Linked DNA regions of Homo sapiens. The protein of the gene in region 2 purifies or fractionates together with the protein of the main gene of each other region. This does not show direct contact. Each region holds a gene or a part of one and is shown on either strand. Other genes may lie near its edges.

Region 1 (3,500 bases), on a different chromosome or scaffold from region 2:
GCCTACTAGTAGAATAGGAAAATAGTGGGGGTCCTAATAAAGAGAATGACTTTGGTGATCTCATAAAATGCAGCAGGCAGTAAGCAGTAAAGGCATCAATCACCAGGACAGCTCTGGAGCAAACTTAAGCTCGTCAGCATACCTTTCCACGCATACTCATTCTCATCCAGGCATCCATGCCCATTCAACACACTTTTCAGGGTATGGGTGTTCTCAGCACTAAATTAACAGATATTGTAACTGTTCCATGATGTTTTATAAGTAAAAAATCCTTTGCAATCTAAACTTGCTAGAACACATTGTCAAATTTTAAATAATTTTCTTTCCCCTCAGAAATTAACTTTTTCAATGATAAAACATGTATTGACTTATCTTACCAATAGCAAGTACAATACATACATTAAAAAGCATTTTTAGAATTCTCTTAGTTATTCTGAAAGAGTGGGTTAATGTTTTATTCTCAGATTTTGGAACATGGCCACAAATGCAAAGCAAAAGAGTACTCAAATTCAGATTTCACATGTGTTGTAAAGCTGCAACTTGTTAAGTTTCCACACACATATTTGACCCATTAAGACCTACCTTCCTTGAATTTCCCATCTATCATTTATTAAATTAAATACGAAATACCTGATACTTTCTATATCCCAGGAGAGAAGTTACAATATAGGCTGTAAGTGTTACTGGACTTTTATTGCCACCTTGAAGCTCACTATGAATCACTCTTCCTGGATCCCAAAATTCACCGTTGGATTTCTGATGTCCTTTAAGCCAAGTGTATGTTCTGTGTAACACATTCTGATCAATATCTATGTAAGGATCGGCTTCAAGGAAACATCTTAAAACAAAAGCTGACAACCTTTATGAAAAGAGAAAAAAATTACATAAAATACACTTTATAAGGTCCACCAAATAACACCGAGCAAGCAAAACAACAACACTTTTTCCCCCATCAGAAGATTCATCAAAGGGGGAATCACTGAAGATGGAACAAGGAAAGAAAAAAATCAAAAAAGAAAGAGCAAAGGGACAAGGTAAGCAACTCTCTCTAGCAGGCAGAACTGGTTTCCACTTGGGCTTGGCCAAGAAATTCCATGTTGACTCAAAAATCTCAGATTTGAAAAGGAATTTAGAAATGATCTAATCCAGCTCCATTTTTTAATTTAATTTTATTTTATTTTATTTTTATTTATTATACTTTAAGTTCTAGGGTACATGTGCACAACGTGCAGGTTTGTTACATATGTGTACATGTGCCATGTTGGTGTGCTGCACCCATTAACGCGTCATTTACATTAGGTATGTCTCCTAATGCTATCCCTCCCCCATCCCCCCACCCCACAACAGGTCCCGGTGTGTAATGTTCCCCTTCCTGTGTCCAAGTGTTCTCATTGTTCAATTTCCACCTATGAGTGAGAACATGTGGTGTTTGGTTTTTTGTCCTTGCGATAGTTTGCTGAGAATGATGGTTTCCAGCTTCATCCATGTCCCTACAAAGGACATGAACTCATCCTTTTTTATGGCTGCATAGTATTCCATGGTGTATATGTGCCACATTTTCTTAATCCAGTCTATCATTGATGGACATTTGGGCTGGTTCCAAGTCTTTGCTATTGTGAATAGTGCCGCAATAAACATACGTGTGCATGTGTCTTTATAGCAGCATGATTTATAATCCTTTGGGTATATACCCAGTAATGGGATGGCTGGGTGTGGGGAAAAGAAAGAGAGATCAGATTGTTGCTGTGTCTGTGTAGAAAGAAGTAGACATAGGAGACTCCATTTTGTTCTGTACTAAGAAAAATTCTTCTGCCTTGAGATGCTGTTAATCTGTAACCTTACCCCCAACCCCGTGCCCTCTGAAACATGTGCTGTGTCAACTCAGGGTTAAATGGATTAAGGGCTGTGTAAGATGTGCCTTGTTAAACAGATGCTTGAAGGCAGCATGCTCGTTAAGAGTCATCACCACTCCCTAATCTCAAGTACCCAGGGACACAAACACTGCGGAAGGCTGCAGGGACCTCTGCCTAGGAAAGCCAGGTATTGTCCAAGGTTTCTCCCCATGTGATAGTCTGAAATGTGGCCTCGTGGGAAGGGAAAGACCTGACCGTCCCCCAGCCCAACACCCGTAAAGGGTCTGTGCTGAGGAGGATTAGTATAAGCAGAAGGAACACCTCTTTGCAGTTGAGATAAGAGGAAGGCATCTGTCTCCTGCCCGTCCCTGGGCAATGGAATGTCTCGGTATAAAATCCGATTGTATGTTCCATCTACTGAGATAGGGGAAACCTGCCTTAGGGCTGGAGGTGGGACATGCGGGCAGCAATACTGCTCTTTAAGGCATTGAGATGTTTATGTGTATGCATATCTAAAGCACAGCACTTAATTCTTTAACCCTGAGTTGACACAGCACATGTTTCAGAGAGCTCAGGGTTGGGGGTAAGGTTACAGATTAACAGCATCTCAAGGCAGAAGAATTTTTCTTAGTACAGAACAAAATGGAGTCTCCTATGTCTACTTCTTTCTACACAGACACGGTAACAATCTGATCTCTCTTTCTTTTCCCCACAGCTGGGTCAAATGGTATTTCTAGTTCTAGATCCTTGAGGAATCACCACACTGTCTTCCACAATGGTTGAACTAGTTTATGGTCCCACCAACAGTGTAAAAGTATTCCTATCTCTCCACAACTTCTCCAGCACCTGTTGTTTCCTGCCTTTATAATGATCGCCATTCTAACTGGTGTGAGATGGTATCTCATTGTGGTTTTGATTTACATTTCTCTGATGGCCAGTGATGATGAGCATTTTTTAATGTGTCTGTTGAATCCAGCTCCATTATTTTGTAGACTGAGAATCTGACAGTCCAAGAGAGTTAAATAAATTGTCCAAGGTTATTCATCTTTGGACTGTTCTAGATATTTACCAAAGAAGAGCTCCAACACGCTTCAGTCAGCCCCAAAGCTGTGGGTGAAGAATGCATACATAGTTCACAAGCAAACTGTAGTACTTCAGGTGGGGAAAATGATATTTTTCTCTCCTATAGAATGGGAGTTAGCCAACTGCAGCCTGTGGGCCAAATCTGCCTGGCCCAAATCTGGCCCTCAAGCCAAATACAGCCCAGGGCCTGTTTATGTGTGCACCAACCCAGCCCCCACCTGCCAACACCACCACCTAAGAGCGGGTTTTAAAAGAAGGAAAAGAAAAAGACAAAGACAGGAAAGAAAGAGGGAGGAGAGGGAGGAAGAGGGAAGAGCATGCAACGGAGACTCTACGTGGCCCAAAATGCCTGAAATACTTACAATCTGACCCTTTACAGAAAAGTTTGCCAGTCCCTGCTACAAAACACTATACTGAGGTAAAAAGAACATCAAGCAATACAACACTGAAAGCTTTCTATTTATGGTTCTATATCCTGAGTCAGGCCAAGGCCAAGAGAAAATTTGAAGCAGATCTGTTTCATGTTATATAAAGTTTCATGTGGTAAACATTACTGATATTCAA
Region 2 (3,428 bases):
TCTGGCCATGCTTTGGGATCTGGCCTGTTCTGTTGTGCTTGTGTCTGTGGCTGGGAACAGCTGATGCTGGGAACAGCTGATGCTGGGACAACAGATCGGGACAATTGCCCCTGCCCCTGCTTCAGGTCCCCAGGATGCTGCCAGGACCAGCTGCACGGTGACTCCCACAGCAGCTGGGGCTGGAAAACGGTCTTAGGATTTGGCTGGGAAAGGCCCCTAAGCAGCCTTTCGTCCAGTCAGTCTCAGGCCAGGCTCCTTTGACGTGCGTGGTGCCTCCAAAGGTGGACTCAGATGGGTTTTTCCCAATTTAGATATAAAAAGCCCCAATTAATGATTAATGGCTACTGTCTTTTTGATTTTCCATTTTTTTCCAACAAACTTTTTTGGAATTTCTGCCTATGACCACTTGTTGGCAAAAGGATGCCAGCAGACAGACAAATGAACAAGGAGCTGGCAAGAATCAATGGGAACACTTGGAAGCAGCCACCTGCTTATTTTGACAGTTTAGTTTTCTCCCCTGACCACGTGCTTATGGCTGCAGTTTCATATTTGGTTTTATAAGTGTCAGTTTAATTCAATTTAACACTTCTCTGCAAATTAAACTTAGTGAAGTCAGATGTCAGCTTTCCCCTTCTTTGGGGGCTCTGCCACGAATACCATAACTCCCTCTTGCTCTAGTGCCTAAAAATGTGGAGGTCTAGTTCAAGTCCCACTTTACAGAAGAGCAAACAGGTGGTCCCTAATTGGCACAAAGTATCCGCCTCTTCTCCCCCAGCTTCTATTACCAGGCATGGTGTCTCCTCTGCCCTCTCCTGGGCTCCCCTTTCTTGTGACGGGGTTTCCTCTTCTGGCTGCTTTCATCTACTTCTGTGTGTATCCATGGCTGCTCCTTAATATTTATGCCAACTATTATTATCATTATTTTCAGAGACAGGGTCTTGCTATGTCGCTCAGGCTGCAGTGCAGTGGTGCGACCTTGGCTTACTGTAGGCTCCACCTCTTGGGCCAAAGCGATCCTTCCACCTCAGCCTCCCAAGCAGCTGAGACTACAGGCATGCACCACCATGGCTAATTAAAAAAAAAAATCTTTGTAAAGACAGAGTCTCGCTATGTTGCCCAGGCTGCTCTTGAACTCCTGGGCTCAAGCAATCCTCCTTCCTTGGCCTCCCAAAGTGCTGCGATTACAGGCATGAGCCATGGCACCTGGCCTATTATTTTTAATAAATATTTTTAATGCTTATTGTTATAAAAAATGTGTGTTCATTGTTAAAAAGAATTTGAGCTAGTGTGGAAGCTCACAGGAGACAGCTCTCTGAGTTTACATTTACAAGACGGGGACCAACTCAGCTTTATTTGCCTGGGATGGTCCCAGTGTAAAACAGGAAGTCCCGCATCCTGGAAAACCTCTCAGTCCTGGGCAAACTGGGATGGTTGGTCACCCTACAGAATAGCTGGAGGACCCTTGAGGGGGACTAATTTCCAATAATTAATGCTATGGGGGTCTCAAAGTATCAGGTTTTGGGTTTTGCAGACATATACCCATTTATAGCACTGGATGGTAGAGTCTGGGCCACACACAAATACACAAAAATAAAATCATTCCTGTGGAACTCACTCTTAACGTACCTGAGGAGTGTCCAACGTCTTTGGACAAGGCCATACTCTCATGTTCCTTTTCACTCAGCTTTACCCACACAGAAATTTTGGGGACCCATGGGGGACTCAGCAGTTGCCAAGGTCTGCAGCCTCCTCCAAGGGGTTCCCATCTAGCTCTCAAGAGGAAGGAGGGGGTTCTCAGTCGCCAGGTGGGCATGGCACTCCCGAGGCCAGGTGAGCAGGTCAGTGCCTTGGGGCTCAGGGCTGCTCCGGTTCTTACCGAATTGATCCAGTCGTTGTAGTTGGAGACCCGCGTGAAGATGGAGGGCTTGTAGTAGTAGTTGCAACCAAGGACCGACGTGAGGCTGCCGATGCCATGCACCTCCCACCGGCCGTCAGATGCCTGACAGTTCAGCGGCCCACCGGAGTCTCCCTGAGGAAGGCCAGAGTTATAGGGAGTTGAAGTGGGAGGAAGGGGCTGCCCATTGGAACCATTGTTCTCAATGCATTTCTATTGTTCTGCTGCAGGTCACTGTCCTCTGAAGCTGGTCCTTGTGGTCATAGCTCAAGGTGGTACCATAATTCCAACAAGAGCCAACACTTATTCTTCCTTAGAGCTGAGCTAAGCATGTTCTATGCCTCATCTCATTAATCCTCACAAAATCCTATGAGGTAAATATTCGTAGTATCCCCAGGCCACGGAAGAGGAGAAACTGGAGTGTTGAGAGGTTGGGACTTGCCCAAGGTTGCACAGGCAGTTTGTAAAGGAGCTGAGGCCACATCCCAGACTTCAGCTGCCAGGCTCTTCCCCACTGGTTCTGTCTTCCCGCAGGTGGTCTATGTGGGCAGAGTGTGTAGGGCACAGTGTGATCTGAAGGGCGTGTGGATCTCCTTCCTACTCCATCCCCACTTCACTGCTAAGTCCAACACAGAGCAATTCCTGGTGGTTAAGACACTGTCTCCAGGAAGGTTTCCGTGACAGCTACCTGGAGGGGACACACTGCGCCATTGATGAGAGTAATTCAACAGAAAAACCAGAAGTCATCTTAGAAAGGCCTTAAGCCAGGGAATACTTTCCTTTGGTTCCCTTCCAGCGTAGAGGAAAGGATACAGAAGGACAGTCACGAGAGACCTTGATGAGACCCAGGGAAGGACTTCCCAGCAGTGAGATGGGTGGACACTACAAGGAGAATCTCAAAACATCTCAAAACAAGAACAAACAAGAACAAGGTCAGGTTTTTTTTTGAGTTTCACTCTGTCACCCAGGCTGGAGTGCAGTGGCATCATCTCAGCTCACTGCAACCTCCGCCTTCTGGGTTCAAGTGATTCTCCTGCCTCAGCCTCCCAAGTAGCTGTGACTACAGGCACCCACCACCATGCCTGGCTAATTTTTATTTTTAGTAGAGACAGGATTTCACCATGTTGGCCAGGCTGGTCTCGAACTGCTGACCTCAAGGCATCCACCCACCTCGGCCTCCCAAAGTGCTGGGATTACAGGCATGAGCCACTATGCCTGGCCAAAGGTCAGGTTCTGATATATCTGGTACCATTTCCGGGTGCTTCTGCCAGGAGGTCGGAGGATGGACCTATGGAGGGATGGTTTTCCATAGCCTCTTCCCATCCCCAGCCACATTTTGTCATGGAGCGGGGCCCCTGATTTTTGGTACTCACGTTGCAGGTGCATATCACGCCATCACCCCCAGCACAGATCATATTCGTCTTCACGGTGCTGCCCCACCAGCCAGAGCTGGAGCAGGTGGCATAGTCCACAACCAGCAACTGGCCCTGCTTCAGGTCATCAGGGAGAGCCCCGTTGGCTGAATGAGACCAGA

What was found.
Region 1: the proteins of CELA2B (region 2) and CD109 purify together in Homo sapiens (affinity purification with mass spectrometry, with the first as the bait; one large-scale study listed by BioGRID). This does not show direct contact.

The regions. Positions count from the first base shown.
Region 1 is NC_000006.12:73,804,203-73,807,702, reverse strand, and holds part of CD109 (CD109 antigen isoform 1 preproprotein), read right to left. Parts: intron 860-3,500; coding exon 631-859; intron 1-630. UniProt on the Homo sapiens protein: Modulates negatively TGFB1 signaling in keratinocytes.
Region 2 is NC_000001.11:15,485,886-15,489,313, reverse strand, and holds part of CELA2B (chymotrypsin-like elastase family member 2B preproprotein), read right to left. Parts: intron 3,414-3,428; coding exon 3,268-3,413; intron 2,030-3,267; coding exon 1,877-2,029; intron 1-1,876. UniProt on the Homo sapiens protein: Acts upon elastin.